Regions from separate parts of the Homo sapiens genome. Here regions 1 and 2 are each linked to region 3. The links come from fine-mapping of genetic effects on gene expression. A gene starts in region 3. Each other region holds a variant in brackets. All regions are shown on one strand. Distances are from middle to middle. Region 1 holds the start of LOC124904575 (a long non-coding RNA gene). Region 2 holds the start of LOC107985375 (a long non-coding RNA gene). Region 3 holds the start of NLRP3 (NLR family pyrin domain containing 3).

Evidence for each region.
Region 1: its variant is fine-mapped to the expression of NLRP3 in whole blood (TOPMed, PIP above 0.99).
Region 2: its variant is fine-mapped to the expression of NLRP3 in whole blood (TOPMed, PIP 0.93).

What each region holds. Positions count from the first base shown.
Region 1 is chr1:247,442,801-247,452,003 of GRCh38, forward strand. It overlaps NLRP3 (NLR family pyrin domain containing 3), which reads left to right. Exons shown (of 10, transcript NM_001243133.2): 8 at 1,172-1,342; 9 at 1,851-2,021; 10 at 5,605-6,017. The coding sequence ends at 5,704. It overlaps OR2B11 (olfactory receptor family 2 subfamily B member 11), which reads right to left. Exons shown (of 2, transcript NM_001004492.2): 2 at 6,382-9,203. The coding sequence starts at 9,182. The coding sequence ends at 8,229. LOC124904575 (a long non-coding RNA gene) reads right to left here and starts at 5,427. Exons shown (of 2, transcript XR_007067005.1): 1 at 5,284-5,427. The variant A/T (reference allele first, on the strand shown) is at 6,333.
Region 2 is chr1:247,385,322-247,395,408 of GRCh38, forward strand. LOC107985375 (a long non-coding RNA gene) reads left to right here and starts at 4,455. Exons shown (of 2, transcript XR_001738574.1): 1 at 4,455-5,027; 2 at 8,021-8,541. RefSeq lists a silencer at 7,520-7,802. The variant A/G (reference allele first, on the strand shown) is at 5,356.
Region 3 is chr1:247,410,349-247,420,435 of GRCh38, forward strand. It overlaps NLRP3 (NLR family pyrin domain containing 3), which reads left to right and starts at 5,825. Exons shown (of 10, transcript NM_001243133.2): 1 at 5,825-5,845; 2 at 7,705-8,729. The coding sequence starts at 8,453. RefSeq lists enhancers at 9-58, 169-228.

The sequences.
Region 1 (9,203 bases), 32 kb after region 3:
TGGCTCATGCCTGTAATCCCAGCACTTTGGGAGGCCAAGGTGGGTGGATTGTCTGAGCCCAGGAGTTTAAGACTGCAGTGAGCTGTGCACTTGGCCTGGGTGACTGAGCAAGAGCCTGGCTTTTTCTATTTATTTATTTATTTTTGAGACAGAGTCTCACTTTGTTGCCCAGGTTGAAGTGCAGTGGCAATCTCGGCTCACTGCAACCTCTGCCTCCCAGGTTCAAGCAATTCTCCTGCCTCAGCCTCCCAAGTAGCTGGGATTACAGGTGCCCACCACCACCCTAACTAATTTTTATATTTTTAGTAGAGATGGGCTTTCACCATGTTGGCCAGGCTGGTTTTGAACTCCTGACCTCGTGATCCACCCTCCCAAAGTGCTGGACCTCCCAAAGTGCTGGGATTACAGGCATAAGCCACTGCACCTGGCCTTATTTATTTATTTATTTAGGCAGGGTCTCACTCTGTCACCCAGGCTAGAGTGTGGCAGCGCAATCATGGCTCACTGCAGCCTCGACTTCCTGGACTCAAGCGATCCTCCCACCTCTCCAACGTGGTTGAGGGCTGCAGCGAGAAAGATGTGAAAGGGGCATTTGGGGGCGCAGGAAGGCGGGAGGTGGCAATTGCTAAGGGCCCCGCCGTGTTCCTGTCACAGCCCTAGCTACAGCTTAGAAGGTCACAATGGACGTTCACCTGTTGTCTTTGATGTTTAAATCAGCACCGACTTCCCATGAGGAGGATTTTTTTTTCCTGTCTCTCTTAAAAAAAAAAAAAAAGGCCCCTGCAGTGTGGGTGTCTGCAGTGTTACGGGGATTATTAGTTGAGGATAACCACTGGGATGTGTTTCTGGAAGAAGTGGTGCTGAGGAGCACTCCTGGCCGGAGGAAAGCTGTGTGAGGAGGAGGAGGAGTATGGGGTAACTGGCTCAGTTTGCCTTGGCTCTTTCTGTCGGACTCATACAGCAAAGCATCTGCTGAGACATCATTTGTGTCTCCTGTGACAGCCAGAGACAGCAGGTCTTGCTCTCCCCAGATCATATCTGAGATGCTGGCTCCTGCTCTCTGAGCTGAAGGCTGCAGCTGCTGAGAGAGGACGAGGCACTGAGTCAAAGCAGCTGCACAATGTTGGGGAACAGCTGGGTACTGAGGACTCTTCTCCCTGTCCTTCTACAGGTTGGTGAATTCTGGCCTTACGTCAGTCTGTTGTTCAGCTTTGTCCTCGGTACTCAGCACTAATCAGAATCTCACGCACCTTTACCTGCGAGGCAACACTCTCGGAGACAAGGGGATCAAACTACTCTGTGAGGGACTCTTGCACCCCGACTGCAAGCTTCAGGTGTTGGAGTAAGTCCTTTGGTTTATTACAGCAATGAGAACACATGGTGGCCAAGGGTGGAGGGACGTTTAGGCAGAGTGGCCACAAGATAATCTGTATCTTAGAAGTGAGGTGTCTTCTTAGTGTTTGCCTTGTTACAGGATCATGGGACTGGGAGGAGTCCTTCCAGATGATATAGATGTAGGAACTTGAGTCCTTACCATCACAGTTTTCTGTACCACAAAACAAGGAGGGCAGTATGACACTTACATTTTATGGAAATGTAGGGAAAGGCACAGAATTTGGTAAATCAATGAACAAACCACTGTTACTAATTTGATCTGTGCAATGCAGTGGATTTGAAAAAGAGAGAGAAGAATAATTACCAGCATACAAGGCTGCTTGAAGCTAGTTAGTCCTGTGCTCCTGTGCTTTTTTTTTTTCCACCTGAAACAAGACAGGCTAAGATGCTAAAATCTTGGGGAGCTAGGGGGATGGTTAAGGGGACATTTTCTTTAAATCACCCCCTTTTTGCAGATTAGACAACTGCAACCTCACGTCACACTGCTGCTGGGATCTTTCCACACTTCTGACCTCCAGCCAGAGCCTGCGAAAGCTGAGCCTGGGCAACAATGACCTGGGCGACCTGGGGGTCATGATGTTCTGTGAAGTGCTGAAACAGCAGAGCTGCCTCCTGCAGAACCTGGGGTGAGTGTGCTCTGCAGAGATGCCCGTGGTGGGACTCTGAGTTCTCAGGAAACGTTGACTGTTATCAAAATCCAGGATGGCTCTCGCTTCATTTGCAGCCACTCAAGATTAGGTTGGGCCTGGGTCAGTTGTGGTGGATATTTTAAAATAGAGAATATGGGGTTAAACTACACATTCCACTTCACTGAGATGGTTAGAATCACCAAGGCTAAGCTGGATTTCACCCACATTCCCCAAAGAAACACAAGCCCTCATGCGATCATGGCCAAGGAGGATTCTGTTCTACACAAGGAACCGAACTTCGTAGAACTCGTCTATGGGTCATCCAAATTGGAAGGGTCTTTACATAGTGGGGATCTTGTTGTTTTGTTTCTGAGGATTTATTTTTTTTTTCCTTGAGACAGAGTCTTGCTCTGTCGCCCAGGCTGGAGTGCAGTGGCATGATCTCGGCTCACTGCAAGCTCCGCCTCCCGGGTTCACGCCATTCTCCTGCCTCGGCCTCCCAAGTAGCTGGGACCACAGGCGCCTGCCACCACACCCGGCTAATTTTTTGTATTTTTAGTAGAGTTGGGGTTTCACTGTGTTAGCCAGGATGGTCTCCATCTCCTGACCTCGTGATCTGCCTGCCTCGGCCTCCCCAAGTGCTGGGATTACAGGTGTGAGCCTCCGTGCCTGGCGGTTTCTGAGGATTTCTAAATGGGAAAAGAGTGCTCCAGGAATAGCAAGATGGGAAATTACACGAAATTCGACAGTGTGTCAGGATATTGCCAGCCCACCTCTGTGATACTACTGAGGTAGTCGTCTCCTCTCTAGCAAGAGCTTCCTGGCGAGTCCCACGGTTCTGTCAGCCGTGATGATTGCACTTTTCCCTGAAGACGTTTTCACTGCTTGGCTTTAAGGCCAACATGCTCTCCTGGGTTTTCTCCTATTTCATCAGATCCTTCTACTCAGTCTCCTTTCTGGCCTCTTCTTCATCATCCTGACCCTTATGTGTTGAATCCTCAGAGCTTAGTCGCTGGGCTAATTTTTCTTCCCTACACTTTCTCCCTCATTTAAATTATCTGGTCTTCTGGCTTCATGATATGTGTGCTGTGGCCTCCAGATTATATGTCCATAAATTCTGTGTCTCCGTGCTTGGCTGATCTTTCTTCTTGAAGGTTTAATAAACCTCTCAAACGTCACATCTAGATCCACACCCTTGCTACTCTCTTCTACCCGAAACCTGATTCTTCCCCATTTCAGTCGATGGTCACTTCCTCCAAGTTGCTCGGGCCAAAACATTTCTGGTTCTGTCGTCACTGTCTCTTTTTCCTTATAATCATGTCCAATGTGTCAGCACATCCTGTGAGCTCTGCCTTCCCAGCTTGGCCACTCCCTGACCACTTCAGGCCAGCTTCACGGCTTCTTCCTTGGCTCAAGCCACCATCACCTGGTGTCTGGATTGTCATGGTGGCATTCTGACAGGTCACCCTGCATCTGTTATTCTGATTTTAGCAGACAAGGGATTCAGCTAAAACGTAACTCGCATCATATCACTCTTGTCAACATCGTCTTCTTATCACTTTCATAATCAGAGCAACAAACTCATGGTGGCTTCCATGCCCCACATAATCCAGCCTCTCCTGCTTCCGAAGATTCCGCTTCTCCCAACCCTTGCTTATTCTGCCCCAGTACAGTGATCTCCTTGCTGTTTTGCAAGAACACTGTCATCTCTGGATTTTTGCACTTGCTTTTCTTCTGGCCTAGAACTCTCTCCCCTTCAGTATCCACCTGCATTATTCCCTGTACCTTCCTAAATTCTCTGCTTAAAGGTCTTCTCTGCGAGGCTGTCTTTGACTATTCTACTGAAAATAGAAGCACTTTTTCTTCTCTTCTCATTCTCCTCTGCAGTGTAGCACATCTTATGTGCTATGTCATTTTCTTGTTTATTTATTATCTATCTCTGCTCCCAAAATATAAATTCCATTAGTCCAGGGACTTCTGTCCATATTAATGATCTCAAGGCTGAGAACTTGTTGGAATGCAGGTTTGAATAAATACAAGTTTGAATCAGCCTTGCATCCTTGTGCCAACATAATGGAGCACATTTGCTGCAGGACAAGCCAATATTCCCAGAGCTAAGAGAGATGGGGGAACAAACAAAGGATTGGTCAGGTCAAAGCTGGGGACACTGCTACATGTAGCATCACTGACCTAGCCCTGAGGGACATTCTGGACCCAGGCTGAGGGACAGGCTCAAAATAGATTGAAGAATCCATGAATGCAATCAACCCGTTTTCTCAGGCTGCGATAACAAGCTGCTTTAGACTGTGTGACTCAAACACAGATTTATTATCTCACAATACTGGAGGCTAGAAAGTCCAAAATCAAGTCTCTGATGAATTTGGTTGCTGGCGAGAGTCCTCTTCCTGATTTGCAGATGGCTACCTTCTTGTTATGTGATTGCATGGAGGGAGGGGAGGCAAGGGAGAGAAGACAGGGGAGAAAGAACAAACTCTCTGATATCTCTCCTGTAAGGGCACTCACCCCATACTGAGGGCCCCACCCTCACAACTTCATCTAACTCTAACTACTTCCCAAGGGCCTCACCTTTAAGTACCGTACATTAGGGGTTCGGGCTTCATCATGGGAATTGTTAAGGAAGACAAACATTCAGTATATAACACCACCAAATTGAGATGGTTATAAATGGTGCAGGACAAATGGGTGGATTTATTAGTTAAGTTGCAAGGGAAACTTTATTAAAGAGGAGGAAGAACTTACATCGAAGATGTGAGAGGCATCCTGGGCAAATGCAATGTGTAGAATTGATCAGGTTAGTGACTAAATGAACATAAGGTAAAAAAATTTACAAGACAGTTGAGGAAGCGTAAATGCTGACTGGACATACAGTGATACTAAGAAATTATTGTTAAACGATTTTGGTGTGATAGTGACATTGTAATTATATTTTAGTGTCACAAAGTGAATTATTGATAGATGCATTAAATGCAGTATTTAAAATAATCCATGGGTGGGAGGAGTGGGTGGGCAATAGAAGAAACAAGTTGACATGACCTGTTTAATTGTCGAACTTGGGTAATGGACACAGGGGGTTCATTATACTATTTTCTATACTTTTATGTATGCTTAACATTTTCCCAACTAGATAGTTAAAAATATAACAGGAACCACATTGGGCACTTAGAGCTTTTTTTTTTTTTTCCCCACATTTTTATTGGGAGCCGTGGGAGGGGCCTCCTCTGTCATTGGAGGTGCTCACAGTTTCTTCAGCCACTCCAGGCTGGGGTCCTGGGGGTCTGAGGCTCCCAGTGACGAAGGACACGACGAGCACCGGCTCCTTGGCCCAGGCATTCTTGAAGAAGGTGCGGAGTCTCGCGGCCATCTTGGTCTCGGCGGCGGCGACGGCGGCGAGGACGCGGAGCACTCTGGGAGTTGTGGTCCCTCTTTTTTTTTTTTTTTTTTTTTTACATTTTAGAAGTGTGTGGAGTTTAGGGAAATGAAGAGATGAGACTTTTAAGGTTAACGACTCTGACAGAGTTATCTGAAGAGTGCAACCCAGGCTTTCTATTTGCTTTTACAGGTTGTCTGAAATGTATTTCAATTATGAGACAAAAAGTGCGTTAGAAACACTTCAAGAAGAAAAGCCTGAGCTGACCGTCGTCTTTGAGCCTTCTTGGTAGGAGTGGAAACGGGGCTGCCAGACGCCAGTGTTCTCCGGTCCCTCCAGCTGGGGGCCCTCAGGTGGAGAGAGCTGCGATCCATCCAGGCCAAGACCACAGCTCTGTGATCCTTCCGGTGGAGTGTCGGAGAAGAGAGCTTGCCGACGATGCCTTCCTGTGCAGAGCTTGGGCATCTCCTTTACGCCAGGGTGAGGAAGACACCAGGACAATGACAGCATCGGGTGTTGTTGTCATCACAGCGCCTCAGTTAGAGGATGTTCCTCTTGGTGACCTCATGTAATTAGCTCATTCAATAAAGCACTTTCTTTATTTTTCTCTTCTCTGTCTAACTTTCTTTTTCCTATCTTTTTTCTTCTTTGTTCTGTTTACTTTTGCTCATATCATCATTCCCGCTATCTTTCTATTAACTGACCATAACACAGAACTAGTTGACTATATATTATGTTGAAATTTTATGGCAGCTATTTATTTATTTAAATTTTTTGTAACAGTTTTGTTTTCTAATAAGAAAAATCCATGCTTTTTGTAGCTGGTTGAAAATTCAGGAATATGTAAAACTTTTTGGTATTTAATTAAATTGATTCCTTTTCTTAATTTTAAAAAAGAGTACCTAGAAATTTTTCAAATT[A/T]TTTCTCTAAACCACTAAAGATAAATTAAATTGTTTGGTGCATTTTAAAAGTCACTTTGGCAAATGATTCCATTGTAGATAATTTTTAAAACGTTACCTCACTCTAACTGTAATGAGTGGAATTTCATCTTTGATAGGATAGGAGATTGAAAATCGTGGAGGGAAAGGTTTGAGAGTATCAGAGCCTGCGCTCCTAACTAGAAGTATTATGTAGAAGATGCATCTTGCTTTCAGTTGATAACAGCTTATTTTGGATTTATCCCATCCGAGGAACAGTTCATCTATTATACTTCACAGAGCATTAAGTTATAAGGAAATATTTACTAATTGCTTCTCTACACATGGACAACTCTTAAACCGCATGGAATTGCTCAGGATGGAAATACTATTTCCTCTGTACAATTAGCCATCAAAGTAGCCACACTTTGCTACTCAAAGTGTAGTCTATGAACTGTCGATATAAGGAGCTTGTATAAGAATGTAAAACAATCACATTATTAAACATACCTTTTAGATGAGCTGACATTTAAAAAAAACCCTGAAGACTATTTTTATAAGGGAAACAGTATGAGATTTACATTCTGTTGCAAACTCTGTCTTGTTAGCACTTCTGAGCAGCACCAACTGGAGACTGGGTTTCTGCATCTTGGTGAACTATTACCGACTGCCTTCCTGCTACAAACACTTTGATAACCTATATAAATAATGTAATCAGAAACACATAGCTGAGCTTGAAAGAGAGAAAGAGAACCTTTGGGCATTAGGACATTAAAACTGGCCAGGTTGCTGAGAATGCCATTATTTCATTCCTTTTTATGGCTGAATAGTATTTTTCCATGGTATATATCTCACATTTTCTTTTTCTTTTTTTTTTGAGATGGAGTCTTGCTCTGTCGCCCAGTCTGGAGTGCAGAGGCGCGATCTCGGCTCACTGCAACCTCCGCCTCCCGGGTTCAAGCAATTCTCTGCCTCAGCCTCCTGAGTAGCTGGGATTACAGGCGTGTGCCACCATGCCCAGCTAATTTTTGTATTTTTAGTAGAGATGGGGTTTCACCATCTTGGCCAGGCTGGTCTTGAACTCCTGACCTTGTGATTCACCCGCCTCGGCCTCCCAAAGTGCTGGGATTACAGGCATGAGCCACTGCGCCCAGATGGTTCCATATTTTTCCAATTGCAAATTGTGCTGCTATAAACACGCATGAGCAAGTATCTTTTTCGTATAATGACTTATTTTCCTCTGGGTAGATGCCCCGTAGTGGGATTGCTGGATCAAATGGTAGATCTACTTTTTGTTCTTTAAGGATCCACAATGTTTTCCATCGTGGTTGTACTAGTGTTTGTACTAGTTTACATTTCATGGAAAAACTTTCTATAGAAGAAAATGTGAACTACAGAGAAAAAAAAATCAAAATCACAGGAAGAAGATAGCAATCTACTTCATTCCTGGAATTGTCTGAAAAAGTCGTGTAAAATTTGTGGAGATTTAAGTATATGGAGAAAAACACTTATTCATTGTAAGTAAAATAAGATTGTATTTCAGCTTCATCTTGTGTATACTTAGGAGTAATAGAAAAGAGACAAATGGGGAGAGAATAAAAGAAATATAGGAAGAGGAAAAGAGAAAAGAATCAGGAAATTGGAAGTGAAATAATTCCACACATACTTATTGAAGTCTATTTAAACAATGCTTAAAAATATATGGCCTCTTAGAATTATACGTTTAAAATGAACTTTGTCGCTATGGGATTTGGGGCATTATAACAGGAAGTGAGATGTTTGAAGACAGGGTTTTTGAGCTCTCTGGGTATTAACTCCTTAAGTGAAAGATGCTCTGAGTGCACAATAGACTTGTGCTGTGTTCTTTAATTGATGGAGATGCTACATCTCATGTCCTCATCATCCACAGAGCCTCCAGATCCTGGCCAGAAGTCTCCTCAGAGCCCCCTTCATATCTTTATTTCTCAGGGTGTAGGTGAAGGGATTGAGAGTGGGGGTGATTATGGAATAGAAGAGAGAAATAAATTTGCCCTGCTCTTGGGAGTAGCTGGAAGGGGGCTGCAGATACATGTAAATCGCAGGTAGGTAGAAGAGGGAGACGATCATCAGGTGGGAGGAACACGTCCCAAAGGCCTTGTGTCGTCCCTTGGAGGACTGGATCCTGAGCACTGCCCGGGCAATAAAGCCATAGGAGAGAAGGATGAGAGCCAGGGGCACCAACACGAAGAAGGCCACCAGCACAGCCAGTATGGTGTCATTCACAGCGGTGTCAGCACACGACAGCTTGATCACGGCCGGCACCTCACAGAAAAAGTTGTTCAGCACCTGCCGCCCGCAGAATGGCAATTGCACCGTCAGGACCACCTGCACGAAGGAGTTGCCGAAGCCACTGAGCCAGGCCAGAGCCACGAGCTGCTGACAGAGAGCACGGTGCATGAGAACGGCATAGTGCAGGGGCTTGCAGATGGCCACGTAGCGGTCCAGGGCCATGGCGGCCAGGACGATGCACTCCGTGCATCCCAGCCAGTGGAAGACTGCATATTGCACAGTGCAGCCTCCATAGCTGATGGTCTTCTGGGAACTGCCCATGTTGACCAGCATCTGAGGGACTGTCGTGGTGGTGTAGCAGAGGTCCAGGAAGGACAGGTGACTGAGGAAGATGTACATGGGGCTGTGGAGTTGAGGATCCACCCGGGATGCCAGGATGATGGCGACGTTCCCCAACATGGCCAGCACATAGGACAGCAGGAGGACCACAAAGAGAGGGAGTTCCAGCCACGGCCTGTCAGACACACCCAGAAGGATGAAGGCTTTAGGGGAGTCCCCTAAGAAGCTATGGTTGTCACTTTTCATGTTGCGGCATTTTCTGGCACT
Region 2 (10,087 bases), 25 kb before region 3:
GTTAAGTTAAATCTCGTTCACTGTCTCAGTCATAATTTTGCAAATGTGATTTCATGTGTCCACGTGGGGCTTTGACTGGAAATCACTGTTGTTATTTTTTTTTTGCTGCCCATGACAACATTTGAATGAGTCTTTTATAATTCTAGTTCAATTTCTCTGAAGAGAAAAGTAACCATTGTTTTGAAGTGACTCATGCACTTCTCTTTTTAGTCTGACAGCCCTGACAGAATATGTTAGCTATTCTCCAGATTTTATTTTAAAGTCCTAAAAAAATTTGATTTTTGCGGGGTTAACTTTTACATATTGTTTTTCAAAATTAATATAATTTTTAATTGACAAATTGTAATTGTATACGTGTATGGGATACATGATTTCAATACAGGTAAGAGACAGCGTAATGTAGAATACTGCCGTAAGATAGGAAGGCAGCAGATGGAGCCAAGTGTGTTGGCATGTACCTGTAATTGAAGCTACTCAGGAGGCTGAGGCAGCAGGATTGCTTGAGCCCAGGCATTTGAGTCTAGCCTGGGCAATGTAGCAAGACCCATCTCAAAAAAAATTAAAAAAGAAAGATGGAAAAAAACAAACCCAGGGATTCTCCACAATTAGTATATAAAAATAAAAAATAGGCCAGGCGTGATGGCCCACACCTGTAATCCCAGCACTTTGGGAGGCTGACGTGGGTGGATCATTTGAGGTCAGGAGTTTAAGACCAGCCTAGCTAACATGGTGAAACCCTGTCTCTACTAAAAATACAAAAATTAGCCAGGTGTGGTGGCGCACACCTGTAATCCCAGCTACTCTGGAGGCTGAGGCACAAGAATTGCTTGAACCCGGGAGGTGGAGGTTGCAGTGAGCCGAGATGGCACCACTGCACTCCAGCCTGGTGACAGAGCAAGACTCCATCTCAAGACAAATAAACAAGTAAATAAAAATAAGCAAGAAATAAAATAAGAAATAAAGGTAGCAGATGGAGATTTAGGAGACAAGGACTCCAGACATGCTCTTGCTTATTCTATACCTATAGTTCTCACTGTGTGGTCGGGGGATCCCCATGGAACTCCTGAGATCTTTCAGGGGATCTGCAAGGTCAAAACTATTTTCATAATCATACTATGACACTGTTTTCACTCTCACAAGTGTAGACTAGAATTTACTTTTCCCCTTCTTCCCTTCTTCTCTTTCTTTTTTTTGACAGGGTCTCACTTCACTCCCCAGACTGAAGTTCCATGGCATGATCATGGCTCTCTGCAGCCTCAACTTCCCAGCCTCAAGCAACCCTCCCATCTCAGCCTCCTGAGTTGCTGGAACCACAGGTGTGCATCACCACGCCCAACTAATTTTTAAGTTTTTGTAGAAACAGGGTCTCTTTATGTTGCTGAGGCTGGTTCAAACTCCTGAGCTCAAGCGATCTTCCCACCGCAGCCCTCCAAAGTGCTGGGACTACAGGCATGAGCCACTGTGCCCGGCTTAGACTGGAATTTTCAACAGGCTAATGCTCTGTGATATTGCAGTAGACTAAAGATGCAGAAGTATTAGAGACTCCAGCTGCTTTCTGCTGAGTCAGACATGAGTAAGATGTGCAAACTGTAAGTCAGTGCTACTCTTCTCAGACTTTTTAACAATTTTTCTGTTTTGGCTTCTGATACAGTAAATATCAACAGATATAATCCCCACATGAAAGCCCCCTGGAGTCCTCATTTTCAAGAGTGTAATGGGGCCTTGAACCAAATCATTTGAGAACCCCTGCCCTAGAAGTAAGAGTGTTTTAAACCCACAGCAAGCCGGCCTCTCTGGGTCTCAGTGTATCCTTTACCTAAAGGAAGGATATGAGATAAGATGATTTCTAGTATCTCCAGATCTGGACAGGTGAAGATGGCCTAACTTGGCTGGTGGGTTTATAAGCGAGTCTGACTTGTGAGGGTGAAGGGAGGGGAGGGCCCCCACACAGCTAATTGTTCCACAGCGTGGCGCTCTGGGTCTCAAAGGAGAGAGATTCCTGCTTCCCTGTTTTGCTGTTTGGTGCTTTTGTGTTCTGCTATAAGCAACAGAGAACTTGGCCAAATTAAAATGTTGCTGGGGAGTGAGTGGTAGGAAAAATTAGGATTGTGTGCTATATTTTGGGGGGTTCTTCAGAGAAACAGAATCCATAGGATACACATAGTATATGAGATTGATTATGGGAATCAGCTCACACGATTCTGGAAACTGAGAAACTCCACCACCTGCTCTCCGCAGGCTAGAGAGCCAGGAAAGCCAGTCGGGGAATTGAGTCTGAGCTTGAAGGCTGGAGAAGTGTAACTGCCCAATGGGCTCACCTTGCCCAGTGCCTGGATAGAGCCGATTTAGCAAGATAGAGGAATTGCAGTGGAGAAAGTGTAATTCACGCAGAGCCAGCTGTGCAGGGGAACGGAGTTTCGTTGTTACTCAAATCAGTCTCCCCAAACATTTGGGCAGCAGAGTTTTTAAGGACAGCTTGGTGGGTGTGAGGAAGCCAGTGAGCCAGGAGTGCTGATTGGTCAGAGATTAAATCATAGGGAATTGAAGCTGTCCTCTTGCACTGAGTCAGTTCCTGGGTGGGGGCCACAAGATCAGGTGAGCCACTTAATTAATCTGCATGATGCCAGCTGATCCATTAAGTGCAAGGTCTGCAAAACATCTCAAGCCACTGATCTTAGGAGCAGTTTAGGGAGGGTCAGAATCTTGTAGCCTCCAGCTGCATGTCTCTTAAACTATGATTTCTAATCTTGTGGCTAATGTTAATCCTACAAAGACAACCTAGTCCCCAGGCAAGAAGGAGGTCTGCTTTGGGAAAGGGCTTTGTTTTAAACTATGGTCTTTGTTTTAAACTATAGGCCGGGCACAGTGGCTCACGCCTGTAATCCCAGCACTTTGGGAGGCCGAGGTGGGTGGATCACGACGTCAGGAGATCGAGAACATCCTGGCTAACACGGTGAAACCCTGTCTCTACTAAAAATACAAAAAATTAGCTGGGTGTGCTGTTGGGCACCTGTAGTCCCAGCTACTCGGGAGGCTGAGGCAGGAGAATGGTGGGAACCCAGGAGGTGGAGGTTGCAGTGAGCCGAGATCACGCCACTGCACTCCAGCCTGGGCGACAGAGTGAGACTCTGCCTCAAAAAAAAAAAAAAAAAAGGTAAACTATAAACTAAGTTTCTCCCAAAGTTAGTTCAGCTTATGCCCAGGAATGAACAAGGGCAGCTTGGAGGTTAGAAGCAAGAAGGAGTCAGTGAAGTTAGATCTCTTTTGCTGTTTCAGTCATTAATTTTGCAAAGGTGGTTTCAGAAGCAGGAGCACTGATGTCCGAGGACAGGAGAAGGTGAATGTCCCAGCTCCGAGAGAATGTGCCTTTCCTCCACTCTTCTGTTCGGCTCCTCAACGGATGGAACGATGCCTGCCCGCGTGGGTGAGGGCGGATCTTCCTTACCTAGTCTGATAGAAACGCTAACCTCTTCCAGACTCACCCTTACAGACACACCTAATAATAATGTTTTACCACTTCTCTTGACATCTCTTCCCAGTCAAGTTGACACATAAGATTAACTTCCACAGTTGCTCTGTCCAAGTAAAGGGTTTTGCCAGGGCCCTTGACCTCAAGAGACAGAAGAACCTGAGAGCACACTGGGAGGCCATGTCACAACCCTGTGAAAGGGTGGGGAAGAACTCTCTGTCCATGTCCCTGGATTTCTAGATGTTCAGAGCTGGATGGGCCCATGAGGAGTCTTTGGTCCAACTTCCCAACAAAACAGTCTCGTTCTCGCAGCCTCCCAGGCAGGATTGCTGGGCCTTAATGTCCAGGGAAGCTGATGAGCAGGAGTGTGGGAGCGAAGCCTTCCCTTCTTCCCTTCCTGGTCACAATCAGGAAAGGGAGTTGCTCCTGCTGACCTATAGAATCTCGATTTCAAGACTGACTGATTCTACAACCAAACGAGAAAACGAGAATTCTTACGTAAGTTCAGAGTAACAACTGTATGCAAGACTCACTCCCACCTGTGTCCTCCTCGACTCATTCTTCCCCACCTCCTGTGTTTCAGTGCGTAACAAACTGCCATGGACTGGGTGGCTTATAAACAACAGGATTTTTTTTTGTTTGTTTTTTGAGACAGGGTCTCATTCTGACACCCAGGTTGGACTGTAATATGATTGATCATAGCTCACCACAACCTCAAACTCCTGGGCTGAAGTAGTCCTCCTGCCTCAGCCTCCCAAGGAGCTGGGACTCCAAGCACAAGCCACCATACCCAGCTAACTTTTAATTTTTTGTAGAGATGAGGTCTCTCTATTTTGCCAGACTGGTCTCAAACTTCTGGCCTCAAGTGATTCTCCTGCCTTGCCCTCCCAAAGATTTGGGATTACAGGAGTGAGGTACTACACCTGGCCCAACAGAAATCTATTTCTCACAGCTCTAAAGGCTGGGAACTCCAAGATCAAGACACCAGCAGGTCTGGTGTCTGGGCTGGTCTGGTGTCTGGTGAGGACCCGTTTTCTGTGCTACTGATGGCCATATATGTTCCTTAGCTATAATCTCACATGGTGGAATGGACAAGGGATTGCTCTGTGGCCCCTTTTATAAGGGCACTAATTCTCCCTTCAGGGGGCTCCACTCACATGACCTAATCACCTCTCCAAAGCCTCATCTCTTAATACCCTCATCTGGGGGGTTAAGATTTCAACATATGAATTTGGCAGAGACACGGACATTCCATTTATACCAGCACCTCTTTATATTAGGTTTCATGCAAGCAAGCCCCGTCTTTCCCCAATATCCCACCCTTCACTTCTGTCCTGGAAACTTCGGGGACGCCAATCATGTACTCTTTTTTACAGCAATTAGCTTTCTCCATCCGCTGGTGCTGCTCCGCAGTCCTCCGCTCTCCCTCCTTCCTCTTCTTAACCTGGGGAGGGCAGAGGGATGATTGTCACTAACACCCAGGACCAGCAGAGGGCAGAAGAGAGTAGCAGGAACCTCCAGTGGAGCAAAATGAGGGACTCTCCTCTCAGTTAAGCAGGTGAGCCAAGGCCAGGCCTCTGGGCTACATATACAGTCCCAGGGGGAGAGAGCGAGGTCAGGTCTAAGACGCGGGGATGCCCCAGCTCAAGATGTGCTGCAGCAGCAGCTGGAGTCGGGCTCCTGAAAAGAGTCGAGCTCAGTGTGGTTAGGAAAAACATTGCAACAGCAGTTTCAGGCTACTTCCGTTTTCTTTCTTATTTTTATCTTTAGAAGCTCAGTATATTAAAAAAAAAAAAAAAGAAATGACAAAGCAGAGTTACGAAACTCTGGTGTGTTTTAAATGTTTACATCGAATACACTTCCTTTTACAGAAAACTCAAGATTCC[A/G]GTACACTGAGCAATGATATGCTTATTTCTGTGAGCACAAAAAAGACAGTGATGAAAATACTTGACTAATGAAAAATTTGGAAGTTTGGGGTTTTTTTTTTTTTTGCAAAATGATTTCACTCTGGGACTTTTGATGTTATACCATCAGGAGCTTGAGTGACAGCCATTGTTTTATTATTATTATTTGAATTGGGGGTCTCGTTCTGTTACCCAGCCTGGAGGGCAGTGGCACAATTATAGCTTACTGCAGCCTCGAACTCCTGGGCTCAAGAGATCCTTCTGTCTCAGCCTCCTGAGTAGCTGGGACTACAGGTGCACACTACCATGCTTGGCTAATTTTTTAAACATGTTTTTGTAGAGATACGGTCTTGCTATGTGTGGTGTGGCCAGCCTAATCGCAAACTCCTGGCCTCAAACAATCCTCCCTTCTCAGCCTCCCACAAGCACTAGAATTACAAGCATTAGCCACCACACCCAGCCACAGTCATCATTAAAGGAAAAAATACTCTGTCCAGGTGCAGTGGTTCACACCTGTAATCCTAGCACTTTGGGAGGCCAAGGCGGGTATGTCACTTGAGCCAAGGAGTTCAAGACCAGCCTGGGGCAATATGGCAAAACCCTGTCTCTACAAAAAGTACAAATATTAGCCAGGTGGGTTGTGATGTGCACTTGTAGTCCCAGCAGCCTGGGAGGTTGAGGTTGGAAGATCGCTTGAACCTGGGGAGGTCGAGGCTGTGAACCATAATCAATCACGACTGCATTCCAGCCTGGGTGGCAGAGTGAGACCCTTCTCAAAAAAATATTCCGATGCTTTTTGAAATGGTAACAGAGACTTTATTTAGCACGATTCCAGCAGGGGTATTGTAATAGAGCAGAGAGAATGGACTCAACCCTGAATGCAACAAGGGAACGTTGGGATTTATGGCTAGGGAACAGGTTGGGAGTCAGTGGACAGAGATTACTAAGAGGATATAGTAAAGGTGAAAAAGATTCTGTTAGACTTTAATCAGACTCCTGAACCTGGCCTAACAGAACTTTAGTCAGGCTCCTGAACCTTCTCCTAGACCCATCTGTGCATTTCCTTATAAAATCCAGCTTTAACAAGAATCCTGCTAAGTCAGTTTAACAAGAATATCCTCATCCTTGGTATCTGACTCCTCAATGGCAGATTGGGTTCCTTATTTTTCATTATCCCCCAGGCAATGTTCAATTACCCCGGCCTGCCTTCAGCAAGAGTATGTTAGGCCAGTTCAACCAGAACCCCCTTACCCCTGATATTTCCTCTTCGTAATTTTTTATCTACTGACCCCCACCCTTCTCTTTGGTTATAAATACCCCCTCTTCCTTGTTGTATTTGGAGTCCGACCCAACCTCTCTCCCACCGCTAGATCCCACTGCCATGTTACCTACACTTATCACAAGGGTCCAGAACAAAGTCAGCCCTCCCATCCTTTAATAAGTACCATTGAATAATTTTTCCTTAACAAGGGTAGGGATATTCTTGCTAAAGTGATCTAACAGGATTCTTGCTGAAGACAGGCCAGGGTGATCAGATATCACCTGGGGGATTGTGAGGGATGAGCAACCCAATCAGATATGAGAATAGTCAGATATCAATGTGGGGAATGACTTAGCAGGATTCTTGCTAAAACTGGGCTAGGCAGGTTGATGAGAGGATGGGGGCCAAGGACAAGGCCTGGTTGAGGAGAAGATTCCGAGGAGTCTGACTGAAGTTTGGTAGAGGAGGGAATCTTTGTCACAGTTCACTGTAACATTAAAGTCTGGACTTTTTTTTCCTTTTTAACATTCTATCACACTTGGAAATGTCTTGCAACAATATTGTACTTTGAACAAAATAGTTACAGGACTATGAAAAAGAATCTTAGACATGCTACACTGTAGGCAGCATGGCCTGGACATGGACCTGTGCTTACAGCTGTATGGTAGAAAGAACCTGTGTGAAGGTGAGTTTAAGTATCGGAGTGTGAGAGGCCTTCTGAGGACACAAAGCTTCTCTGTGCCTCACCCACAATGGTGTCTTGGTGAATGCCTTTAGACTGAGTGAGCATTCATCTAGTCTGAGACTTCTTATCTACTGCATTTTTTTTTTTTTTTTGGAGAAACAGAGGTCCCACTATATTGCCCAGGCTGGTCTTGAACTCTTGGCTTCAAGTTATCCTCCTGCCTCAGCCTCTCAAAGTGCTGGGATTACAGTCATGAGTCACCACGGCCTGGTCTGTCTACTGCATCTTAAAGGAGCAGATGCTTGCTTTTTTTTTTTGAGACAGGGTCTCACACTGTTACCCAGGCTGGAGTGCAGTGGCACAATCATGGCTCACTGTAACCTTGAACTCCTGGGCTCAAGAGATCCTTCTGCCTCAGCCTCCTGTGTAGCTTGGGACTACAAGTCCATGCCACCATGCCCAGCTAATTTGTTTTTTAAATATATATATATTTTTTGTAGAGACAGACTGTTGTTATGTTGCCCAGACTGGTCTCAAACTCCTGGCCTCAAGTGATCTTCCTGCCTCAGCCTCTCGGGGTGTTGGGATTACAGGTATGAGCCACCATGCCTGGCCTACATGTCTACTTTTGATCCTGGGAATAGGCAAGCATCCTCCCTTCCCTCCTCTTTTATGATTGTTCCCTGTACATCCACCTCCAGCTCCAGGACTCTACCTCTCATCAAGGCTGACCAGAAGCAAGATGATGGAAGCCAAGAGAGCTCCTCTGCATGCTCCACTGTCTAAGCTCTGCTCTGCATCTGCCGTGATTCTTCTTCCAAACAGAAAACACCGTCTTTCTTTTTGACTACATCTGTCCTCAGAGATGGTGCTGATGGATCCATTTATAATTTATGTGAATTTAAACCTTTGCAATTTTTACATGGAATAAAAGGACCTATTTTCTGGAAAGAAAATGCTGAACAAGAGCTGAGAACCTGGGGCAATCTAAGGCAGGGGTTCCTCCCTAACACCCCTGCTGTCAGAAGCCAGCTGGTTGGCCATAGATCACTTCACCTAACACCCAGTGCCCAGTCACATTTGCCCCCAAATTGTACAACTCAAGCTTAACTTTCACATATTTTAAGATAGTGTCAGCCCCTTTTGCAATATGTAGATGATACTTTTTGTTTGTCATTTACCATTTCAAAAAAATTAAAGCATATTGAATATCTAACTTAAAGCATATTGAATATCTAGCTTGCTTTCCTCTCAGGTTACTAATAAGAATTGCATTTTTTAATGCTTAATCACATATTAAGCTTTCCATTTGGGAGTTTTGCTCTTTTGTTCTTTAAATGGTGTCTCAGTCCATTTGGGCTGCTATAACAAGGTCCACAGACTGGGTAGCTTATCAACAACAGAAATTTATTTGTCACAGTTCTGGAGGCTGGAAAACCAAGATCAGAGCTCCAGCATGGTCAGGCTCTGGTGAGGGCTGTCTTCCAAGTTGCAGACTGCCAACTTTTTGTTGTATCCTCACATGGCAGAAAGAGGCAAGAGAGCTCTCTGGCCTCTTCCTATAAGGACACTAATACCATTCAAGAGGGCTCCATTCTTGTGAGCTAATTACTTCCCAAAGTTCTCACCTCCTAATACCATCACACTGGGGATTTCAACACATGAATTTTAGTGGGGCACAGTCAGTCCACTATAAATGAATATTACCAATATTTCCATTTGCCTTCTTGCATGGCCTGCAGGAGGTCAGTGTTTTTTCTCCTCTAATGATATTGAGCTGCGGTTGGGCCCATAATGGTGAAAAGACCCGATGAAGGCCATCTCGTCCATTCAGGCTACTCTAATAAAATACCATGAACTGGGGGTGCTGATAAACAATAGAAATGGATTTCCCACAGTTGTGGAGGCTGGAAGTTCAAGATCAAGGCACAAATAGACTCAGTGCCTGGTGGGAACCCATTTCTTAATTCACAGATGGTGTTTTCTTGCTGTGTTTCTATACCCTAATGGAAGGGGCAAGGCAGCTCTTGGAGGTCTCTTTTATAGGCACTAACGCCATTTATGAAGGCTGCACACTTATGACCCAATCACCTTCCAAAGTTCCCACCTCCAAATATCATCACCTTGGTGACTAGATTTTAACATGAATTTAGAGGGGACACAAATATTTAGACCACAGCAGGTCTGTTAGCTTCACAATAGTCATGGTTCTGGCTTTCAATTCACACATATTATGGGGTCATAAAATATGTATCACCACATAAATAAATTCCCTAATCTTAAATCACTATCATATGTAATATTGTATGATGTGTTATTTGAAATAATGAAGCAAAAAGAAGACACAATAACTTAAATGCGAAAATACAGAAATTTAGAAAAAAGAAAAGTCTAATCTATTGTTTTACTACACAACTAGAATTGTCCCCACTTCGGGGAATTTGCTTCTAGCTTTTCAAAAGCTTATATGTCAGCCAGGTGCTGTGGCTCATGCCTGTAATTCCAGCACTTTGGCAGGCCGAGGCCTGAAGGTTGTTGAGCCCAGGAGTTCAAGACCAGCCTGGGCAACGTGTGGAGACCTCATCTCCATTTTATTTTATTTTATTTTATTTTATTTTATTTTATTTTATTTTATTTTATTTTATTTCATTTTATTTCATTTTATTTATTTATTTATTTTTTTGAGATGGAAACTTGCTCTGTCGCCAGGCTGGAGTGCAGTGGCGTGATCTCAGCTCACTGCAACCTCTGCCTCCTGGGTTCAAGCC
Region 3 (10,087 bases):
ACCCCTGAGATCATCCCACTTGGGCTTGTGTCTTAGTCCGTTTGTACTAACAAAACACCTGAGACTGGGTAATTTCTAAGGAGCAGAAATTTATTTCTTAGAGCTCTGGAGGCCGTGAGGTCCAGGATCAAGGCGCTGGCCTTGGTGCCCGGTGAGAAGTGCTCTCTGCTTCCAAGATGGTGCCTTGTTGCCATGTCCTCACATGGCCCATGGCAGATAGGCAAGAGAGAGCACCCCCTTGAACCCGGAGCCCTTTTACAAGTGTGTGAATCCCATTCATCACCCCACAAACTCAATCACCCCACAAACACCACACCCCTGAATACTATTGTATTGGGGGATTAAGTTCTTTTTAAATTTTTATTTATTTGCGTATTTTTATTTATTTATTTATTTGGAGACAGGATTTGGCTCTGTCACCCAGGCTGAAGTGCAGTGACACAATCTCAGTTCACTGCAAGCCTTGACTTCCTGGGTTCAGAAGATCCTCCCACCTCAGCCTCCCCAGTAGCTGGGGACCACAGGTGATTTCAACTTGAAATCATTCATGCAATTTTAGTTTGGAATTCAGTGCTGTGAGTTCCAGTCCACTTAAGTGAGCTTTGGGTATTTAATGGAAGCAATTATTTTTCTTAAATGTACAAGAGTAAATTATTATTATTTTTTTTTGCATGAATGATGTATGGAAAATCACCGCGTTTTACTTTTGTGAGTTGACTTATTTATTTGTGTTGATTTTGATATTCCCAAATCTGAAACAAAATTTTTTCAGAATGCATAATAACACACAGAGTATGGTGGTCTTTCATTGACAAGTTTTTATGTATGATTAGAGTATCTTTTCAAGATTCATAATCTGCATTTTTTTAATATAGGGTCTCACTCTGTCACCCAGGCTGGAGTGCAGTGGCACAGTCCTAGCTCACTGCAGCCTCAATTTCCTGGGCTCAAGCGATCCTCCCACCTCAGCGTCCTGAGTAGCTGGTACTACAGGCATGCACCACCACATCCGTCTATTTTTTAATTTTTTGTGGAGATGGGGTCTCACTATGTTGCCCAGGCTGCTCTTGGCCTCCTGGCTTCAAGTGATCCTCCTGCCTCAAACCTCCCAAAGCGTTGGGATTACAGGTGTGAGCCACTGAAACTGGCCTGACCTACAATTTGAATACTACTGTACAGTTTACATTTTGCTGTCAGGTATTATTTTATTTATTTTTTCCTCTCTACAATAATGTATTATAGATCAGGTCTTGTTTTATTTGAGCCTCACAGGAAAGCTGAGGTGAGGGTCGCAGGCAAGGAGTCGGACCACAGGAGTGGTCGCAGCATTCAGCGGAGAGTGAAGCAGCGAAGGCTGGAAACCTCATCTGCTTCTCGTGAACTTCCCACTGCCCCAAGTGACTGATGTCCTTACACAATTGCAGCCAGTTCGCCAGCTGCATGAGTGACAGTGGCATAATTGACGATTGCCAAAAACGGAAACAGCCCAACTGTCCTTTGCCTAGGGAATAGAAAACCAAATTGTGGCCTATCCAACCCATGAAATACTTAACTGCAGTAAAAAGGAATAAGCTACTGATCTGAATCTCACAGGCATCATATGAAGTGAGCGGACTCGCTCACCAAAGGCTGCACACTGTTTATGTGATGCTCTGGAAAAGGTAATGCTTTAGCAGGTGGAAGAAGTGGGGCTGCGGGTGGGGACAGAGGCTGACTATGTGGCAGCACAGTGGGTGGGGACAGAGGCTGCACAGGGAGCATGTGCAGCTGATGCAGGTGCTCTGTGTGGGCTGTGGTGGTGGGTAGCTATATGCTTGTGAGCACTCACAGGCCTGTGCATGAAAAAGGTGCGAATATTTATTTTATTGTACATATTTCAGGTGTATAACATGGCAGTTTGATATACATAGTGAAATGATTGCTGCAGTCAAGCAAATTAACATGAGTTAACATAGCCACCATCTCACATAATAATCTTTCTTGTGGGTGGTAAAAACATCTAAAATCTCTCTTAGCAAATTTCAGGTTTATAATATTTTTAACTATCGTTCCCACACTGTTTGTTAGATCTCTCGGCTTATTTATCCTACATAACCGAAATTTCGTACCCTTTGACCGTCATTTTATTTCCTCTACCCCGGTAACTCTCTGTTTCTATATATTCAACTATTTTTTTTTGAGACAGGATCTCGGTCTGTCACTCAGGCTGGAGTGCAGTGGTGTGATCTCGGCTCACTGCAGCCTCGACCTCCCAGACTCAAGCAATCCTCCCACCTCAGCCTCCCAGCCTCTCAAGTAGCTGGGGTGACATGTGCACACCACTGCACCTGGCTTCCTTCCCTCCCTCCCTCCTTTCTTTTCTTTTTTTCATTTTTTTGGTAGAGGTGAAGCCTCACTATCTTGCCCAGGCTGGTCTCAAGCTCTTGGGCTCAAGTGATCCACTCACCTCAGCCTCCCAAAGTGCTGGGATTACAGGTGTGAGGCACCACTCCTGGCCTAACTTTTTTTTTTTTTTTTTTTAAGGTTCCACATATGAGTGAGATCATGTAGTGTTTGTCTTTCTGTGCCTGGCTTATTATGCTTTGTGTAAAGTCCACCGGGTTCATCTATGTTGTGGCAAATAGCAGAGTCTCAATTTTTAATACTAACTAAGATTGTATTGTGTATATATGCCCCAAACTCTTTATTTATTCATCTGTCAATAGACACTTGGGTTGTTTGCCTATCTGGACCATGGTGAATAATGCTGCTATGAACATGAGTGCACAGATGTCTTTGTGAGGTGGTGATTTTATTTCCTTTGGATACACACTCAGAAGAAGGATTGCTGGGTCATACGGTAGTTCTATTTTTAATTTCTTTAGGAACCTCCATATTGTTTTCTGCAATGGCTGCACCAATCTGCATTCCCAGCAGCAATGTGCAAGGGTTCCCTGTTCTTCACGCCCTAGCCAATGTTTGTCTCTTGTCATTTTGCTAATAGCCATCCTAACAGGTTTGAGGTGGTACCTCATTGTGGGTTTGGTTTGCATTTCCCTGATGATTAGTGATGTTGAGCACTTTTTTGTATACATGTTGACCATTTTTGTTTCTTTTTTAGAGAAATGTCTATTCAGTTCCTTTCTTCATTTTAAAAATCAGATTATTTGTTTTATGCTTTGAGTTGTGTGAATTCCTTACATATTTTGCATATTAACTACTTATCTGATATATGGCTTAAAACTATTTTCTTCCAATTTGTTGGCTACCTTTTCACTCTGTTGATTGTTTCTTTTGCTATACAGGAGCTTTTTACTTTGATGTATTCCCACTTATTTATCTTTACTTTTGTTCCTTTGCTTTTGTTGAGACATTAAAAATATCCATGCCAAGGCTAATATCAAGAAGTTTTCTCCTCTGTTTTCTATTTTTTATATTTAGTTTTTTATCTGTTTAGAGATTGGGTCTCATTCTGTTACCCAGGCTGGAATGCAGTAGTGTCATTATAGCTCACTGTAACCTCAAATTCCTGGGCTCAAGTGATCTTCTTGCCTCGGCCTCCTGAGTAGCTGGGCTACAGGTGCACAGCACCATGCCTGGCTAATTTTTTTTTTTTTAATTTTGTAGACACAAAGTCTCACTATGTTGCCCAGGCTGACTGTGAACTTCTGGCCTCAGGTGATCCTCCTGCCTCAGCCTCCCAGAGTGCTGGGATTACAGGCATGAGCCACCATGCCTGGCTTCTTCTCTATTTTCTTCTAGGAGTTTTACAGTTTTAGATCTTATGTTTAGATCTTTAATCCATTTTGAGTTGGTTTTTGTGTGTGCCAAGTTTTATTCTTTTGCGTGTGGAAATCCAGTTTCACCAAAAGCTTAATTTTTCAAAATCTTATATTTTTCTTGATTTTTTTTTCACACTTCTATAGCCAACATCTTTATTGAAGAGATTGTCCTTTCTCCATTGTGTCTTCTTGGTGACCTTGTCAAAGAATTAGTTGACTGCATATACTTGAGTTTATTTCTGTTCCACTGGTCTATGGGTCTGTTTTTATAAAGGCATGGATTTTTACTGCATATGAATTATACCTAAATTTGTCTTTTTTTTTTCCTTTTTCTGGAGAATGGGGTCTCACTATATTGCCCAGGCAGGTCTCGAACTCCTGGGCTCAAGCTATCCTCCCGCCTCTTGCCTCCCTGAGAGCTGGGATTACAGGCGTGAGCCACTGCGCCCGGCTGAATTATACCTAAATTAACTTGACTAAACAAACAAAAACAAAAAGATCCCAGGTTCAGCCAATGAGCTCCTTTTTTTTTTTTTGAAATGGAGTCTTGCTCTTGTCACCCAGGCTGGAGTGCAGTGGCACAATCTCAGCTCACTGCAGCCTCCACCTCCCAGGTTCAAGTGATTCTCTTGCCTCAGCTTCCTGAGTAGCTGGGATTACAGGTGCCCGCCACCACACCCAGCTATTTTTTTTTATATTTTTAGTAGAGATGGGGTTTCGTCATGTTGGCCAGGCTGGTCTCAAACTCCTGACCTTGTGATCTGCCTGCCTTGGCCTCTCAAAGTGCTGGGATTACAGGCATGAGCCACTGCACCCAGGCTGAGCTCCTTTCTTTTGGAGCATATTTGGTCTGCTTTCTCTCTAGCTTCAGCACCTGAAGTTTTTGCTGCTCCTGCCTCAGCTCCAGCCCCGAATGACACCTTTCACCTGGTTCATGGAGACTCAGGTCTGCTGTCATGCCCCTAAGCAGGACTAGATGCCTCTCTCATGTTGTAGAGCATTCTCTCTGCAGTTCTGTAGAAAGGTGGTAGTCATCGGAACCAACTGCTTATTCTAGCTTCTCTGTGCCAGGCTCTGTTTTAAAGGCCTCACGTTTAGCCATTCACTCAGTGTTTTCTGACAGCCTTCTAGGATAGGTACCGTTATTTGGGTTGATGTAGTGCTTGGTCAAATGCAGTATAATGAAGGGATCAAGGAGGGGGCAATTCCAAGCAAAACCACTTGTTCATCCATCCTGAGTCTAGGAGATTTGGAAGATCTAAAGAAGTAGCAGGCAATTATTGTCACCCTTTTACAGGTATGAGGCACAGACAGACCCAGTCATTTGCTGACATCCCTCCACTGAACTGGGTGCTCGTCCTTTTCACTCACCCAGAGGCTGAGCGAGTGCCTCTCACCCACCAAGCTCTGTTGAACTTGTGCCTTTGCCGGTCTGTGGTCCTGCGGCCGTCTCATGAGCTGCAGAGTAGGTCTGTGTGTGTCTCTCCTCAAGCTACTCAAGCTGAGGCTTTGTGTGCATGCCTGCCACATACCAGCCATTCCGTGAGTGTTAGTGGAACAGGTGAGTCAATGAGTCAGGGAGTAAAATTTGTGCTTTAAAAGTAGAACATGTCGGAGAGAACCTGTACTGCCTTCCAGCCATCTTGCTGTGAGAGGACAGGGCATGGACTCTGGAGTTTGAAGGCTGGGTCAGGTCATGCTCTGGATTCTTTACTCACTCGCATGGCATGTCCTTAGTTTCACTTCCCTCACTCTCAGTGGAGCCGTTGCAGCGGGCAGTGTCAGAGGCAACATCCATTTAGCACTGCCGATTTGACCCCCAGCCCCATCTCATACTGGCCTCCCACCCTGCTTCTGTGGGGTGCCTCAGAGGAGAGCAAGGTGAACCCCAGTATGGAACCGAGACACGGTTTTGACAACACTGTTGATCCCATTTGGAAAATCCAGCTATGTGATTAACCATTAGTCTCTCTGCCTCTGCTCTGATGTAAGTGGAGACCACATCCTTCCTGCCCCTTCTGGGGCTGCGACTGCTATAAATTCATTGCATTTCCTCTCTAGCTGTTCCTGAGGCTGGCATCTGGGTAAGTCCAGCTCCGCGGGGCAGTGTGGGCGACAGGACCGGGAGAGCAGTGGGGGAGATTGTGTTCAGAGGGCAGAACTTGTCCTGGTTAATGCACTAGGAATTTCTTCTGGCGTCTCCAAGGTTGTGCTTCAACAACATTTCTGGAATGTTCTTTTATCATTATTTGGGCTCTACGTGTGCAAGTTCGTGTGTGTGTATGTGGCGGGGGGAAGCGGGGAGGACAGCGGCAGCAACCATAGTTTACACCCACGACTTCAGCAGATTTGCCCAGTATCCCTCCCAGGGGAGAAGATGGATGGGATATACAGAAGGAAACAAACCTCCTTAAAGACCAAAGGGCAGCAGATTTTTGTGCTGGTGTTAGGGTGGAAGGAGCACAGAAGAAAGGCAGAATCCTGATGCAGATGGAAGGACTGATGGGGCAGGAGCTGGGAGGGTATGCGGAGCTAATAGGGCTGTCTGGAGAGCAGTCACCTCAGGATGGGCAGGAGCTGGGAGGGTATGCGGAGCTAATAGGGCTGTCTGGAGAGCAGTCACCTCAGGATGCACAGGGCTGGGTTTGCAGGGCTCAGGAGGCGAGGAGTAGATAGGCAGGAATGGAGATGGGACGGGAGAGATGAGTGAGTCTGAGGCATCTTGACATTGAACTGCAGTCACAGAAATTCCAATTTGGAGAGCTCCACCGTTTTCCAGGCTCTCTGCCTCCCTTGAGTGTTATTTATGGCTTTAGGTTGAGGTGCTTTGCCAAATAGAGTATAATCAAGGGATCAAGGAGGGAACAATTCCAAACAAAGCCAACTTGTTCATCCATCCGGACTCTAGGAGATATGGAAGATCTAAAGATACAGCAGGTGATTGCTAGTTTTTGTGGAACTCACAGTCTAGTTGGGAAGACTATGTTGGTGAATGCTGCAGTGATACACCTGTGATAAATGCTGGGGAAGTGTGTCTTTTAGTCATCTATTTTGTTGTCTTTGTCTTTGTCTGACTGAAACAAGTGATGGAAGACATGGTCTCATATCTCTGGTCAAAATCCTGGCTCTGTTCCTTCCTGGTTCTAAACCCCTCGGCAGGCTTCCTAGTCCCCCTAAGACTCAGTTTATGCATCTATAAAATGGGGCTAGGAATAGGTGCACCTCATAGAGCTCTGTGCAGGTTAGATGGGGAAAAACATCAGTGAGTGCCTAGCCTGTGGAAAGCTCTAAATTAATGTGAATTATAATGATAACAATTGCGAATTTTGCAAGGAGACATTAAAGGATGTATGTTTTTATTTATTTTATTTTATTCTATTTTATTTTTTGAGATGGAGTTTTGCTCTTATTGCCCAGGCTGGAGTGCAGTGGTGTGATCTTGGCTCATCGCAACCTCCGCCTCCTGGGTTCAAGCGATTCTCCTGCCTCAGCCTCCCGAGTAGCTGGGATTACAGGTGCCTGGTACCATGCCCGGTTAATTTTTGTATTTTTAGTAGAGACGGGATTTCTCCCTGTTGTTTGGTGAGCCTGGTCTCCAACTCCTGACCTCAGGTGATCCGCCCACCTCGGCCTCCCAAAGTGCTGGGATTACAGGGATGTATGTTTTTATTATTCTCCATTATGCACTCCCAGCTTCATCTCACTTCAATCCACTGGTTGATAGAAGTGCAGTCAAAGACTGTCCCCTCCTCTGCAAGCTTTTATGTTCTCTCTCCTCTCTCCCTAGCCACGTCCTGTTCTGTTATCAACACACTTACTCACCTCCTGGCCTTCTCCTTCTATTGTCTCTCATCCCTCTTCCCTCACAAAAACAGAAGCAAAGAGCCAGAGCCTTCAGTTTGGAGGAACTGAAAACATTCTCTTCTGCTTTCTCATTTTGTAGATGAGGAAACTGAAGTTGAGGAATAGTGAAGAGTTTGTCCAATGTCATAGCCCCGTAATCAACGGGACAAAAATTTTCTTGCTGATGGGTCAAGATGGCATCGTGAAGTGGTTGTTCACCGTAAACTGTAATACAATCCTGTTTATGGATTTGTTTGCATATTTTTCCCTCCATAGGGAAACCTTTCTTCCATGGCTCAGGACACACTCCTGGATCGAGCCAACAGGAGAACTTTCTGGTAAGCATTTGGCTAACTTTTTTTTTTTTGAGATGGAGTCTTGCTGTGTCGCCTAGGCTGGAGTGCAGTGGCGTGATCTTGGCTCACTGCAGCCTCCACTTCCCGGGTTCAATCAATTCTCCTACCTCAACTTCCTGAGTAGCTGGGATTACAGGCGCCCGCCACCACACCCGGCTCATTTTTGTACTTTTAGTAGAGACACAGTTTTGCCATGTTGGCCAGGCTGGTCTTGAATTCCTCAGCTCAGGTGATCTGCCTGCCTTGGCCTCTCAAAGTGCTGGGATTACAGGCGTGAGCCACTGTGCCCGGCCTTGGCTAACTTTTCAAAATTAAAGATTTTGACTTGTTACAGTCATGTGACATTTTTTTCTTTCTGTTTGCTGAGTTTTTGATAATTTATATCTCTCAAAGTGGAGACTTTAAAAAAGACTCATCCGTGTGCCGTGTTCACTGCCTGGTATCTTAGTGTGGACCGAAGCCTAAGGACCCTGAAAACAGCTGCAGATGAAGATGGCAAGCACCCGCTGCAAGCTGGCCAGGTACCTGGAGGACCTGGAGGATGTGGACTTGAAGAAATTTAAGATGCACTTAGAGGACTATCCTCCCCAGAAGGGCTGCATCCCCCTCCCGAGGGGTCAGACAGAGAAGGCAGACCATGTGGATCTAGCCACGCTAATGATCGACTTCAATGGGGAGGAGAAGGCGTGGGCCATGGCCGTGTGGATCTTCGCTGCGATCAACAGGAGAGACCTTTATGAGAAAGCAAAAAGAGATGAGCCGAAGTGGGGTGAGTGGAAGGAAGACTTTTAAAAAAAATTGTGGCCAAGTGCACATAGTGTACAATTTTCCATCTTTATATATATATATATATATATTTTTTTTTGAGACGGAGTTGCTCTTGTTGCCCAGGCTGGAGTGCAATGGTGAGATCTTGGCTCACTGCAACCTCCACCTCCCGGGTTCAAGCGATTTTCCTGCCTCAGCCTCCCAAGTAGCTGGGATTACAGGCATTGCACCTCCACGCCCGGCTAATTTTGTATTTTTAGTAGAGATGGGGTTTCTCCATGTTGGTCAGGTTGGTCTCAAACTCCCGACCTCAGGTGATCCACCCGCCTCGGCCTCGCAAAGTGCTGGAATTACAGGTGTGAGCCACCGCGCCCGGCCGTAATAATTTTTAAATGTACAGTTCAGTAGTGTTAGGTACACTCACATTGTGCAACCAGTCTCCAGAACTGTTTTCATCTTGCAAAACTGAAACTCCTCACCCATTGAATGATAACTCCTCATTGCCTCATTCTCCCAGCCCTGGTAACCACCATTCTATTTGCCATCTCTGTGAATCTTACTACTCTGGGTACCTCATATAAGTGGAAACATACAGCATTTTTTCCTTTATGAGTAGTTTATTTCACTCAGCATAATGTCCTCCGGGTTCAACTATGTTGTAGCATGTGTCGGAATTCCCTTCCTTTAAAAAAGACTGTATAAATACTCCATGGTACCATATACCAAATTTTGTTTAGTTATCTGTTGATGAACACCTGGATTACTTCTACCTTTTTGTTATTGTTAATGCTGTTATGAGTGTTGGTGCACAAATATCTCTTCAAGACCCTGCTTTGAATTCTCTGGGGTATATACTCAGAAGTGAAATTTCTGAATCATACGGTAATTCTGTTAAATATTTTGAAGAACTGCTCTACTGTTTTAGATACCATCTGCACCATTTCCCACCAACAGCACACAAGGGTTCCAATTTCTCCATATCCTAAGAACACGTTATTTTTATTTATTTTTTCTTTTTTATAGTAGCCATTCTAATGAGTGTGAGGTGGTATCTCACTGTAGTTTTGATTTCCGTTTCCCTAATGATAAGTGATGCTGAGCACATTTTCACTGCTTGTTGGCCATTTATAGAGCTTCTTCAGAGAAAGTTCTGTTCAAGTTCTTTTCTCATTTTCAGACCAGGTTTGGCTTTTGTTGTTGCCTTGTAGGAGTTCTTTATGTATTCTAGATATTAACCCCATATCAGATATATGATTTACAAATATTTTCTCCTATTCTGTGGGTTGTCTTTTCATTTGGTTAACTGTGTCCTTTGATGCACAGAAGTTAGTATGATTTTTTTTTTTTTAAATCATGGCC